2 linked regions of the Homo sapiens genome follow. Each later gene encodes a partner of the first gene's protein in a complex. Each region holds a gene or a part of one and is shown on either strand. Other genes may lie near its edges.

What was found. The genes of interacting proteins can lie anywhere in the genome.
Region 2: NCKAP1 (region 1) and ABI1 share a complex: the UniProt entries of both Homo sapiens proteins name them as parts of the WAVE2 complex.

What each region holds. Positions count from the first base shown.
Region 1 is NC_000002.12:183,035,448-183,042,573, forward strand, and holds the start of NCKAP1 (nck-associated protein 1), read right to left. Parts: upstream 3,011-7,126; 5' UTR 2,653-3,010; coding exon 2,545-2,652; intron 1-2,544. UniProt on the Homo sapiens protein: Part of the WAVE complex that regulates lamellipodia formation. The WAVE complex regulates actin filament reorganization via its interaction with the Arp2/3 complex. Actin remodeling activity is regulated by RAC1.
Region 2 is NC_000010.11:26,857,958-26,865,729, forward strand, and holds the start of ABI1 (abl interactor 1), read right to left. Parts: upstream 3,002-7,772; 5' UTR 2,907-3,001; coding exon 2,790-2,906; intron 1-2,789. UniProt on the Homo sapiens protein: May act in negative regulation of cell growth and transformation by interacting with nonreceptor tyrosine kinases ABL1 and/or ABL2. May play a role in regulation of EGF-induced Erk pathway activation. Involved in cytoskeletal reorganization and EGFR signaling.

The DNA of each region.
Region 1 (7,126 bases):
TCTGGTAGACAATCTAATGCACATGCATTAATGAAAATGTGATAATTGATTGGCAAACATGTATTATGAGGTGGAAGGTTTTTTTTTTAAGACTAGAAGAGGTTGAGATTGAAAAGAGTATGTGGTTTATAATGCAGTAAGAATGCAGACAGCATGAACCTAATAAACACATGGTGAACAGATCTTACTCACTTCTTTGGCAAGATATTTGAACAAATGTTTCAATTCCTAGCCAGCTGGGAAGATATGCCAGACTCACAGACAATTCTATAGGCTGAAAGATCCAAAATCTTATCTGATTCATTTACATGCAAAATTACACAAAGGGAGCAAACCCAAGGGTATTATTATTAAAACTAGAGCACACAGGTTTTGAGAGAGAGGAGGGAAGTAATTCATTCATTTCAACCTGGCCTAACTGAAGGCCTCGAGTATCAGATAAGGCCCTAAATACTCTAGTATTTCAAAAATTACACTGTCCCTGCCCAGAGAAAATTCACACTCAAGCAAGGTAAGCAATGTATTTCTTAAGAAACTAAAAATATAAGGCAAGTGCTAAAATATGACGTTTCAATAAATCAAAATATTTGACATGGATATAATAATGATCACATTCAATGCATTTTAACTTTCACAAGTTCAATAATACAAGAGGCTGAAGCTTCCCAAAACAGGAAGTGAAAAAAACAGTGCTTTTGAGAAAAGGCAATGAACTGGAATTATTAGAGTTCAAATGCCCAGAATTTCATTTAATCTTATTTATGAAGGTGGGATATTAAAGTTTGATTGCATTTATCCTACAAAAATGTTTAATAAATGCTTAGAAAAGGTATTTTGCCCAAATACCCAAATCACTTTTGATGTTACTCTCACTTCCTCTTTTAGAAACCATCATAACCATTTCCTTTAAACCACAATACCACAGGTCTAGTAACTTTTATAATATTTGACTTGTTCATTTTTGGACAAAATTCATATAGGAATCAATTTCCAAGTTTTTTAAGCAGCACAATCTCCCCGAACAGTTCAGGTCAATGCAACCTCTAAGTAATACTATTTAAAACTGAATTATTCCTAACCTATATAAATTTATAACCTAGGCTCCTTGGTAAATGCAGAGGGGCTTCTTTGTCATGACACTGAGCTCCTGCCACATAAAAGGTAACAAACTGAGTAAGCATGTTGCAGTTACTCTCCAGATAGCACTGGGTTTAGAGTAATAAAGCCTTGCAATTAGGTGAGCAACCAGACTTTGTCCTTATCCAAAATTTATCATCATTAAACCAGGACACTCTTTAGAATTAGTGTCTACATCAAATTGTAAAAAATAAATCAATTTTACACTCAAACGCTTGGAAATGAATTTCCAAAGAAAAAAAAAAAAACCTTTCTTCAGAAGCCCTCTCAACCTACAATCTATTGCTATGATTAAACTAAACGGTAACATTCACGATATATTAAAAAGCCAACAAATAGTTATGAAGGTATGACATCAAAGACACATTGGAAACTCGATGGATCTAAATTTTCCAAATATCTCTTTTTCTCTTTATCAAATTGTTTAAAACTTACCAACCTTGCCTTAAGGGGAGAGATTTTGTTGTTTTGTCCTACGATAATGAATGTAATTATTTGTTCTATCTTTACATGGACTTTTCTAAACTTCCAGTGGTCTTCCACTCCTTACTGTACTGAGGACATGTAAAAGCCTTTAAATGGGCCTATTAGCTATAGTTGCTCAAATTATCAGACTATGCTATAAATCAGCAGCAATTGCAACATTTTTACGGTTTTTATTTTGTACAGACACCGAACTTTAAGAAATGGTATTGGAAAATCTAACATGAGGAGGAGTACAGGGGAAAGAGTAGAAGGTTGTTATTCCAGTTCTAGTGACTCACAGCCTAGAAGTATTTCAGAAAATTGGTTCCACCCTCACTTCCCCCTCCTCTCCACCTTCAAAATGAAATAATCCCAAATCGTCAACACACTCTCAATGGCTTTTTATTTAGCAATCTAAAATAAAGTGGCAAAGTGGAGGGGATACGGGATTCATCCAATCAGCCCTTCTCTACCCACATTCCCACACCAAAAAATGGGGATGTGGGGTGTAATCCCTGTTCACTGCTGCCATCTCCGTAAGAATATGGAACACTCAAGTTTTCCTACCCACCTAGAATTTCGCCCACCCACCACCCTCCCTTTCCTATGGGCCCCATCATGGGGGCGGGGGCGCCGAGGAGGGGACAGCTCCCGGCTCCCAGCGGCGCCCCCACCCCGTGCGAGGCCCAGCGCCCGATCCCGCCGCCGGGAGCCGGGAAATGGCTTCTCTGCCTTCGGCCGGCCGGCGAACCACAGGGAGAGGCGCCCGGGACTCCGCATTAGGCCGCGGCGCATCCAGGCGACCCCGGGCCGGGCCTCGGGCGGCGACGCCGAGATTTCTACACCCGGCGCCTCCTGCCGCCCCCACCCCACGGCCTCCCTTGCCCTTCATCCCTCCCGGGCCCGCCCGCCTCCGCCGCGGCCTCCCCGGCCCGTGCGCACCTTCTTGATGTTGTAGAGGCGGGTGAGCATGCCGACGCCCCGGTCGTTGAGGATGGTGAGCTTCTCCGCCAGCTTCTGCTGACTGGGCTGCAGCACTGAGCGCGACATGGTGGTGCTGGTGCCGCCGCCGCCGCCGGCCGCCTCGCGCCCAGTCACGGGCCCGCGGCCTTCGCAGCAGCCTCTCTCGGGCCTCCTCCCCTCCCGCCCGCGACCTCCGCCTTAGGAGAGCGCGCCCATGGCCCTCGCGCCCCAATCCCGCGCCGGCGACAGAGCGAGCCGCGGCGGACTCCTCGGAGCCCCTTCTCCCGCAGCAGCCCGCGCCCCGGCAGCCTCCTGCCTTCCGCCCGCCGCCCTTCCGCCCCCACCCCCGGCGCTCTCCGCCCCAGCCCCCAACGAGCCGCCTTCCCCGGCTGCTCCACTAGGTGTGGCGGCGGCGGCGGCGGCGGCGGCGTCTCCGGCGGCTGAGAACGAGGCCGCTTCCCGCAGCCCCGGACGGGCCCTCGGTCACCTGATCGGCAGCGCCGGCGCCCCCGCGAGGCCGGACGGGGAACTGCGGCCGACGGGCCCTCGGCATGGCCTCGCCGCCGCCGCTCTGGCCCTGGCCCTGGCCCGGACCGCCCACTACGCCTGATGCCGGGATGGGAGTCCCAAGCGGGGACTGAGTGGGGTCGCGTTGTGTGCTCTTTCCACTTCGCCCCACACCCCACTCCTTCAAGTTCCCAAAAGTTGCTTTTCCGCACCACCCTTCTAAAGAAACCGGCAGAAACTCTGCTGGGAGGCGGGGTGTTTTCCAGGCGAGTTTCGCTTAAGAGTGGGCTGGTGGCTCCAAGCGCTTTTTCCTCCCACTGCTTGACAGGCGCTCGCCGCAGAACACAGCAGATGTTGTGCTCCGCGAGGTGGGGATCGCCTCTGCCAGCCTCCCCAGCCCATCCTCAGTCTCCCCGCCTGGAACCAGTTTGTGAGAGAGGAGGTCGGAAGTGAGGGTAACTCAAGTCCTTGAGATAATCACAATCTAGACTTTGTCGGCGAGGAGCACCCATCCGGAGGAGACGCAGTAGGTCCTGGCATGTGGAAGGCAAAAAATAAATGTTTGTTCAATGCCTAAAGGAACCGCTCCCATTTTTTTACAGCCTCCACCCTAAATCCCACTTCTTCTTGGAAACATTCTTCTTTGCCATCTCATTTTTCCTGATCAATTTCTTCTTAGCGACACTCCAAGGCTACTCCCTTGTCAAATGTATTAGACATGATTCCAAAAGTGAACTAACTGAGGACTTACGTAATTGAGGTGAGAAACTTCAGCCAAGAGGACTCAGGCCTCTAATATTTTTGGCTTTGCCTTTTCTCGATATGTTAATTTTTTATATTATATTCATTAATTTTAAGTCAGTAACAAAATGTCCCGCCACATTCAATAAGACATTCTAAGAGTAATAAGCCATCACTGGATTTATCAAAACTCTTTAAGAAAAGGAAATTGTAATGAATAGCTTTAAAATATTTTTTAAAGCTACTATATCTACTATTCGTAAAGAAATCTTCATTTTAATATTCCAACAAGAAAGAAGGAGTGGACTGAATGGATTTAATCTAAGGGGCATTTAAAAGAGTCCTGTTCCCACCAAAAGAAGTCATAATCATACCTGCCAGTGTGCCTGAAATTCTATATACAAAGCTGCAGTACCTTGAATGAATGCTTTGTACCTAGAGAGTCTTAAGAATACAAACACTTCAGAGAGATCATCTGTCGAGCTATTACTAGTCATTAACTGGTCAAGGAATTTAATTTATCTGGTTACTTCTCAGCCTGATAGTTAACATTTTAATTTAGAGGAGGCAAGGTTGTGGGGCCTGGAATAGTAAGGGCAGACCTGAGAAGGGGAGGCTGCGAGGAGGGGTTTGGGGTAGCCAGATAAGAAAATTTAAAAATGTTGAACATTGGGGAAATATGTGCTCCTTTAGGGAGACTACAAATAACTAAGTCTAGACGCAGAATTACAGAGTGCTACCAATAAAAGATTGTCTCATTTTCTAGTTTTTAAAAACTGCTGTATAGGGAGAACAAGAAAATGGCACTGTATTATAAATTTGAACACAACTCTTACTCCCCAAGAAAAACTATCATGTTGCCATATAAACTTGAATACTAGTAGCTGCTTATAACTCAGGAAGTACCCAATAGGAGAACGCTGTAGATAGTAGTCTCATTATTCAATATTTATTGTCACTAATTCATAGACATACTGGCCCTAGACTGTAATGAAATGTATATATTTGCGTAAAAGAGATTAGATGTAGATGAATTACAATTTTTGTCTTTCTCTACATTTTGCATTAAAAAGAACAAGTGTACGGGAATTTTTCTTAAACTTTTTAACTTTTTTGTAGAGACAGGGTCTCCCTATGTTGTCCAGGCTGGTCTTCAACTGCTAGGCTCAAGCTCCATCACACCTGTAACCCCCACACTTTGGGAGGCCAAGGCAAGAGGATTGTTTGAGTCCTGAAGTTCAAGACAAGCCTTGGCAACATAGGGAGACCCCCATATCTACAAAAATTTAAAAATTAGCTGGGGGTGGTGGCGTGCCTGTGGTCCCAACTACTCTGGAGGTTGAGGTGGGAGGATCACTTGAGCCCGGAAGGCAGAGGCTGCAGTGAGCTGTGATCACACCCCTGTACTCCAGTCTGAGTGACAGAGCAAGACCCTGTCTTAAAAAGAAAGAAAGAAAGAGAGAGAGAGGAAGGAAGGAAGGAAGGAAGCAAGCAAGCAAAGGAGGGAGGGAGGGAAGGAGGAGGAGAGGGAGGAGGGGAAGGGAGGGGAGAAAGGAAAGAAAGAAGGAAGGGAGGGAGAGAGGAAGGAAAGGAAGGAAGGAGAGATGAAAGAAAGAAAGAGAGAAATTGAGGCCAGGCACGCTGGCTCACTCCTGTAATCCCAGCACTTTGGGAAGCCAAGGTGGATGGCTCACTTGAGGTCAGGAGTTTGAGACCAGCCTGGTCAACATGGTGAAACCCATCTCTACTAAAAATACAGAAATTAGCCGGGCATGGTGATGCGTGCCTGTAATCCCAGCTACTTGGGAGGCTGAAGCAGGACAATCACTTGAACCCGGGAGGAGGAGGTTGCAGTGAGCCCCGTGATTGCACCACTGCACTCCAGCCTGGGTGACAGAGTGAGACTCTGTCTCAAAAAAAAAAAAAAAAAAAAAAAAGGAAAAGTACATCCATCATCCAGCCTCCCTTGCAGCTTATGTTCTGACCAGTAAGATATAAGCTGTCAAGAACCTTCCTAAAGGGACTGCTGCTGCTCTCCATTTGCCAGTTCTTCCTCACTTCCTTCATTCTGCCACACCCAACAAGGATGCAATGACCACTATCTTGAACCAGGAAGACAACAGCCACTCAGTAAGGATGACAAAACATAAAAATGGAAGGTGTATGTGGGCTTTTTAGAACACAACAGCCATGTCAAACTTGGCCTGTCTAGACCTGGTTTTGTACGAAAGAGAAATAAACTTCTAGCTTTTTTATTTGTTTTTTTTTTTATTTACTTACAGCCAAACGTGATTCTCAATAATCCTCAAACGTGATCCTCAATAATAAGTTTCTGTGGCCAACTTTATAATATCTCTAATAGGAATAAAATAAGGGAGGATAACTAGATTTAATAGTTATGGTTTTTGCACTGTGTCAGATGTTGTTACAATTTGAGCTACATTTTCTCATTTACTTCTTTCAAAAACCTTTAGAGATATTATCATCTTTAATTTTACAGATGAGAAAACTGAAATGCAGACAGTTTTTTTTTTTAATTGCCAAAGATCACACCCATAGAAAATGGTAAAGCTGATATTGGATCCCTTATCGGTCTGACTCCAAAGTTGGTGCACTACTGTGACAAGACAGTTGGATGGCACTACATTTTTCATGCATCCAGTGAACATGATTCTATAGTTTCCTCTAGAGTCCTATAACCCTGCTCAAACCTTTATAAACAGTTCCTTCACTTTCTTCAATTCACAGTTAAGAGTCTGCCATATTTTTTCCTGACCGATACATCAGCTTTTTTAGATGGCTTTCTTTAGCTTTGCTTTCTCCAGAAACTAGCATGAGAATTATTTCTGTAATATCTTTTGCTAATCATAAAGAATGTTTATGCGTTCTTTTTTTAAAATCACTTAGTTTACCCAACCCAGTGTTGCTTCTCTATATAAGGCAAGAAGTGAGAAAAATTGATTAAGGGTATCTCTATAGGTTCTTAGGATAAAGCCCTTTGATTAGGAGGTCTGCCATCAAAGGCAGTGTTCCACTTGATCTTAAAGACAAATATAATGTTTTTCCTCCCATCAAACTTCAGTGTTCCACTTGATCTTAAAGACAAATATAATGTTTTTCCTCCCATTAAACTTCTAACCAGGTATTACTAAGTATGACTAGAAATGTATGAACAAATTTCTCTTTGAAATAGCCTGGGAATTGAGAAGTAGACATAGTAATTTTGTCTGTCCTTCAACCCTTCCTTTGGGAAGCCACCACCTTCTGACAAAATTGAATGCAGAAAGAAAAAGGGCCCAAGCTGTGGGAAGAG
Region 2 (7,772 bases), on another chromosome or scaffold:
CAAAGAACTAATAAACTGCCGCAAGAACTTAAATGCACCACAGCCAAAAGAGTTTCTCAGCTACACACCTTAGCTAAACTGGACTGCACTTTCAAACTGTAGAAAAACGAAATGAAAAGTGAATCTCAGAACAAAAATCACCCAAGCAATAACTTAGCTCACCTTATTTAAAAATTCTCAAAGCACACGTGAACTGCATACTTTCACTGAGAAGAGATATATATTTAGGAAGAGTATTAGTTATAAATAACCCAATCAGGTCACAGGAAGGATACAGAAAGACCTCAACAGACACCCTAATGGATATTTCTAATATTATTCATTCCCCATTCTTAGCACCAAAGTCAGCAGCACCACCTACCACATCAACTTCCACATCACTTTCTGAGCCTGACCCTGTCTGAGTCCCTTAGGGAGGCAACTAGTGGCCTGGATCATGCAGCCCAACGTATAAAGGCTACTAAGGTATTTAGATAATCATTGCTTTGCGTGAATTCTTTTTTTTTTTTTCCAATATGAACAAAACACCTCACTGGTGTCAGATTTAGGATTATACCCCACCCCGCCCCCACAAAAAAAGAAAAAAAAAAAAAAAAAAAAAAAAAACGGGGCCACTGACTGTGGCTATTCGTGCACCATGGCACTAACATTTTATAAAGTGAGAGACTGTATGAAAAATAACATGACTTAATTAGAGATATTAGCAATGAAGTTTTAAAGTGCTTCAAAGTTACATGATTGTAGCAAGAGGAGTAAAGGAAAGGGGTCAGAGAGGGGTAAAAAAAAAGCATTACAACATACAACTACCTGAAAAAGTAATAGTACACAGACAGGTTAAAACACGTTTACAGTTACTAACAGTTGCCAACACATAGTTACCACACTATATACTTGTCAGATTTCCCAACATGCAAAACAAAAAGGAGCCACCCCTGTATGAAGCACTTATCTACTGACTTCTACAGAGAACACATAACTTTTCTGGAAAGCGAGAAATTAAACTTACTGTGCTCTCCTTTTGGCTTTCAAAAATCTTTAAAACTTTCAGCAAATTAAGGTTCTCCTCAATTTCAAGGCTTTTCATGTTAAGTTGAATAAAAGTTGCCTATTTTTAATATCGATAAACTACGAGATCACTTTTATATTTGCAAACCATATCCACATCCCTACTAGATTTTTAAAAGTTTTTCGAAGGGCTAAATATAAAGTTTGCACAAAGTGATACAGTAGATGTGGCAGGCATTCAACAAGTTCACTTATCAGGAGAATTCCTAAAGTGAAAGCTTGAAAAAAAAATTGTGAAGATAAATTCCGAGTAGTGCTACTGAAGATACAATGTTACTAACATGAAAACTGAGAAATATTCAAAACATTCTGAAAACAGCATCTCCCTCTAAAAATAAAGAGGGGAAGCATTTGCCAACACAGAAACATCGGTTCTTAAAAATTATAATCACATGGGAGACATTTCTATAAACAATTTAGTTCTGAATTGCAATAACCCTAACCTTTCAAAGCACGTTTTGGCCTTGCCTTACCAAAAGCAAGAGCATTCCTGGTGCCTTTATATTTATACAAAGGACTGTGCTACTTTGTTTCTAGCGCAAACTGTTGGTTTACACAGTTAAAGATCTTCAAAACAAACTACCACACACAATTCACTTCCAATCATCCAAAGAGAAACGAACAAACAAGCATCTGTCACAAAGTCCCAAGAGTTTTCTAATTTACAATAACAGATATTTTTACGTTGTAGTTCAGAGGCTACCTCTGTTCGTTTCTGTATTTGGATTCACATACTATACATTTACTTAGCTTGTTAAGAGAGAAACCTCAGAAAATAAGCAACCGGCGATGACACCAGTCTATTTTAAGTTACTTATGAAGCCTACAGCTCAAGAACTTTTGGGAGAAGGGAGGGTAAGCCGTTTTTCCAAGGAGTTAAGAACAATTCGTGTTTGATAATTAATGATAGCAGCCCTAACAACCTCTTAGAATACATTATGGTGGGGCGGAAGTGAAAACGATGAGAGGGGGAAAAAAATAAAAAAAACCCGACTTGAAAATGGACAAGCAGACAGATTTACAAACCTTCAATTAAAGGAATTTTAAGATGAACTTCTCTCAAACGCCCTCCCTCACTCCCCACACCCGCTTCCTCCTCTCCTCCGGGAGGTCGGTGTAATGTGACTCATGACAAATTTTTTTTAAATAAATAAATAAATAAAAGACACACCCTCTGGGGGCTGAAACTGACATAATCGCCCCCACCCCACCCTCCGCCGACACACAACACACACCCCGCTGGTCCTCTCCCTTCTGCGGCTTCAGCCTCGTCCCTGCCCTCTCCTCTCCCCTCTCCCGTCCTGGACCTCCTCTCCCGGCGCAGAGAGGCGGCGCGGCGGCAGCTCGGGGGTATTCCGGGACTCCAGCCCTGCGGACTGGAGGCTACCTGGGGGGCGCGCGACCCCGGTGGCCGGGCCCTGGGGGAAGCGGACGCGAGGGGGGCGCCGGGCTGCGGCAGCGGCGGGCTCCCGGCTCCCTCGCCCATTTTCTCTCTCCCCTTCTATCGGTTTCCACCACCACAGCCACTTCCTGTATCGCAGCCCGACTCCCTCAGCCCGGCCACTCGCTCTGTCCCCGGTTGGGGCTGGGGTTGGGGCTGCGGTAGGGGCTCGGGTTGGTGGCAGCCGCTGAGGTCAGGGCAGTTCCCCACCCCGCCCAGTGGGCTGGTCACTCCGGCGGGTCCTCGACCCGGCCAGCGCCCGCCGGCCGCCAGAGCGCCTCACCTGTATGTAGTTGTTTTCACAGTAGTCTGCCACCCGAGTCAGGTTCTGGTAACTCTCGATCAGCGCCCTCTTGCCAGACGGGATCTCCTCCTCTAGTAACATCTGCAGCTCTGCCATTTTCCACCCCTCTGCATCGCTTCCTCTCGCGTTAAAGAGACAGAGGCAGCAAGGTCCGCCGAGGCTCCGAGCACCTCACAGCCCGGATACAAACCGCCTACCCGCCCTCCCGCCTGGTATTGTGGGACGGCACCTCCTCCCCTTCCTCCTCACTCTCTCCAGCCCCCCTCCACCCCCTTCGTGCAGCCGCCTGAACCTCGTTCTCTCGCGAGCGTTTATTTCTCCCACCCCCACGGACCGCGGGATTTTTTTTTTCTTTCGCACTGTCTTCTGGGAATTGTAGTCTCTCCTAGGCTAGGCGGCCCGTCCAAAGCGCATGCGCCCAGACACCTCCGAAAACCAACGCGGCAGAGCGCAGAAAGCGGAGACCGAGGGTGGAGGGAGGGGGCGGTGTTGGGGGGAAGTCCGGAGTTTCCTCACAGCTCCGGAAGGTGGCGCCACAGGGTGATACTGGGGGAATGAAATCGGTTCCCCAAGTTTCATGTGAAACTTGGCAGAACTTGGTTAATTAGGAAATGTCAGTGAATCAAGGACACCCATTCAGAGAAGGATTAAAAAGGGGACAGAGTACGGAAAACTAGATTTTTACTTCCTCTGCCTTCTTAGAAATAAAGCGAGTCAGGCTTTACTTTCTGAAGTTCCGCCCCCATCAATTCATTTAAAATTTAGCAAACATTTCTTGATTGCCAGCTGTTTACCAAGCAGCGTACTAGACACTGGGGGTACAAGTTGAGTACGAATACTCCGTACCCTTAAAGACTCAATTATAAAATAAACATACATAGCTTGTAGTGCTTTCCTGTCCTAATTTCTCTTTTCTCTGACTCTCCTTATCATGTAATCTTCCTACACTTTTAAGGTCATGTGCACGTTTTTTTAGGGGTGGGAGTTGTTTGCTTGTTTGAGACAGGATCTCACTGTTACCCAGCCTGGAGTACAGGGGCACAATCATGGGTCTCTGCAGCCTAGACCTCCTAAAGTCAAGCGATCCTCCTGCCTCAGCCTCCAGAGTAACTGGGACTACAAGCGTCGGTCACTACACCTGGCTGAGCTTTTTAATTTTTTATAGCGACAGGGATCAAATTATGTTGCCCTCGCTCGTCTCGAACCCCTGGCCTCAAGCAATCCTTCTGCCTCAACCTCCCAAACTGCTAGGATTACAATCATGAGCCACCCACCCTGATCCTTCGTTTTTTGCTCCTGGATTTTTGTTTTGTTTTGTTTTTATCACCTGCTTTGGAATAGTCTCAAAAGGCCCTATATTTCAAGCTCTTCACTTCAACAGGAACATTAAATGCTTCGGATATAATCAGCTATGAAAAGTGTTGTCCAAAGACTTTGGACATATGTTCATGTATCTCCATAAAGTCATTTAGAATCAAAATAACTAGGAGTAAAAACATCACTCAACCAAATTAAAAATTGCCAGCACCAGGTATTTATTGAATATTGCCTTTACTGGGGCCTTATTCAGGGCCCCAGGGAACCAGTTTCCCTCTTCGACCTCTGAAAGGAAAAACTCAGTTTCCTACTAAAAACGTTAACTTCCCCTTGCCACCAGATTCTCCATCAAGGAATCTATCAAAAGATAACTATTATACCTATTCCAGATATTATGGAAAGTAATACATTTATTATCTGGAATAGGTGTAATAGTTATCTTTTGATATTTATCGTTAACCCAAACACGACTTAATCCAAGTTATTAAAATTTAATGTATTATTGATCTTGGTCTCTACTTGAGGTTTAACTGTAGAAATCACTCAGTTTGTATATATTCAAATATTGACACATTTCAACAACATTGGGGAAGTGATTAGGGAGGTGATACTAATTTACTATTTTCAACGTACTGTCCATGCAGTTGAGCAATGAATGAATAATAATGATGATGATGATAAATACAAATAAAAAGTACTGTCAGATTTCTTCTCACAACTCTGAGAGACAGATAATATAAATATTATTTTCCTTCCTTATCAAATAAGGAAATTTAAGCTTAGATAGGTTAAGGAGTTTAGCTAAGGGCACTGAAAATGCCGTCAAGTTTCCTAGGTTACTGATTGATATGGTTTGGATCTGCATCCCTGCCAAATCTCATGTTGAATTGTAATCCCTAATGTTGGAGTTGGGACCTGGGGGAAGCGGGAGTGGATCATGGAGCAGATTTCTCACGAATGGTTATGCAGCATCCTGTTGGAACTCTCCTTATGATCTCGAGTGAGTTCTCCTGAGATCTGGTCATTTAAAAGTGTATGACAGCCCAGTGCAGTGGCTTGTGCCTGTAATCCCAGCACTTTGGGAGACCAAGGTGGGAGAATCCACTTGACTCCCAAAATGGGAGACCAACATGACGAACTACTCCCGCTTGAGTTCCAGACCACCCCGAGCAACATGGCAAAAACCCGTCTCTACAAAAAACACGAAAAATTAGCCAGGTGTGGTAGTGAGCACCTGTAGACTCAGCTACTTGGGAGGCTGAAGTAGGAGGATTGCTTGAGCCTGGAAGGCACAGATTGCAGTGAGCCAAGATCACAGCACTGCACTCTAGCCTGGGTGACAGAAGGAAACCATGTCTAAAAAATGAAATAAATGTATATGACACCTCCCCGCCTGCCTCCTGCTCCCCTCCTGCCACATGAGACATTTCTCTTCCCCTTTGCCTTCCTGCCATTTTGGAAGCTTCCTGAAGCCTCCCAGAAGCAGAAGCAGCTATGCTTCTGGTACAGCCTTCAGAGCCAGGAACCAATTAAACCTCTTTTCTTTATGAATTACCCAGTCTCAGATAGTTCTTTATAGCAGTGCTAGAATGGACTAATACAGTGATCTTTCCAAAATCCAGTGGACAGTGCAAACTTGTACAAATATTTGTGGCTCATGTAAAGTTCACTAAAAGAACTTATCCCTCATGCCTTAAAGGTGAGGAGGAACAGGAGCAGGAGGAACAGGAGTAGGAGGAAGGAGAGGAGAAAGGGGTGGAAGAGGAGGGGGAGGAGGAGGAGGAGGAAGAAAAAGGAGAAGGAGGAGAAGGGAGAAGAAGGAGGAGGAGGAGAAAAGAAAAAGGAGGAGGGAGAGAGGGAGCGGGGGGAGGAGGAGGAGGAGAAAAAGAAAGAAGGAAGACGAGGAAAACCAAAACCTGGGAGAAAATATCTGCAAAACAAATATCTTGATAAAGGAGTTGTACCCTAATATATAAACAACTCTTACAGTTCAGTAATAAGATGACAAACCAGTTTTTTAAAACAAGCCAAAAGGCTGGGCACAGTGGCTCACACCTGTAATCCCAGCATTTTGGGAGGCTGAACCAGGAGGATCACTTGAGCCTACGAGTTTGAGACTAGTCTGAGCAACAGGCTCTCTCTACAACATGTATGTTTTTTTCAAGTAGCTAGGCACGGACTGGGCACAGTGGCTCATATCTGTAATCCCAGCACTTTGGGAGGTCAATGTGGGCCGACCACTTGAGGCCAGAAGTTCGACACCAGCCTGGCCAACACGGGGAAACCCTATCTCTACTAAAAATAAAATACAAAAATTAGCCGGGCGTGGTACTTAGGCAGCTGAGGCAGGAGAATTGCTTGAACCCAAGAGGCAGAGGTTGCAGTGAGCTGAGATCATGCCACTGCAGTCCAGCCTGGGGGACAGAGGGAGATTCTTATCTCAAAAAAAGAAAGCAAACAAACAAAAAAAAACGGCACGGTGGCTCACACCTGTAATCCCAGCACTTCGGGAGGCTGAGGCGGGCAGATCACCTGAGGTTGGGAGTTCATGACCAGCCTGACCAACATGGAGAAACCCTGTCTCTACTAAAAACACAAAATTAGCTGGGTGTGGTGGCACGCACCTGTAGTCCCAGCTACTTGGGAGGCTGAGGCAGGAGAATTGCTTGAACACACAAGGTGGAGGTTGTGGTGAGCCAAGATTGAGCCGTTGCACTCCAGCCTGGGAAACGAGAGCAAAACTCTGTCTCAGAAAAAAATAAAACTAAAAAATAAAATAAAAAAATAACCTACTGTATGATTCCTCTTCTAAGAAATTTTAGAAAAGGCAAAATTACAGTGATAGAAATCAGATCAGACTTTGCCAAAGGCTGGAGTAGTGGTGGGGTGACACCAAAGGGATGCAAGTGAACTTTTAGAGGTAAAGGAAATGTTCAATATCATCACTGTACTGGGGGCTACATAACTACATACATTTGTCAAATCACATTGAATTGCACACTTAAAATCTATGCCTTTTGCCGGGCGTGGTGGCTCATGCCGGTAATCCCAGCACTTTGGGAGGCCCAGGCATGTGGGTCACATGAAGTCATGAGTTCAAGACCAGCCTGGCCAATGTGGTGAAACCCCGTCTCTATTAAAAATACAAAAATTAGCCGGGTGTGGTGGCGCACACCTGTAATCCCAGCTACTCAGGTGGCTGAGGCAAGAGAATCACTTGAACCTGGGAGGCGGAGGTTGCAGTGAGCCAAGATCATGCCACTGGACTCCAGCCTGGACTACAGAGTGAGACTCCATCTAAAAAAAAAAAAAAAAATCTGTGCCTTTTATTGCAACTAAATTATACCTCTGAGCTGGGCATGGTGGCATCCCTAGCTATTCGGAAGGCTAAAGCAGGAGAAGCCCAGGAGGCTGAGGTTGCAGTGAGCTATGATGGTGACCCTTCGCTCAAGTCTGGGTGACAAAGCAAGATCCTGTCTCAGAATAAATAAATAAAGTATATCTCAATGAAACTGGACAAAGAAAATGCAAGCAGGGAAACAATTCCTTGCTTCGAATAATAAAAAGGGAAAAACTACATATTTTTGTTGTATTTGATGTATGATGAAAAGTATAAGTGAGTGAAAGTTCAAGAGTTAACATTAA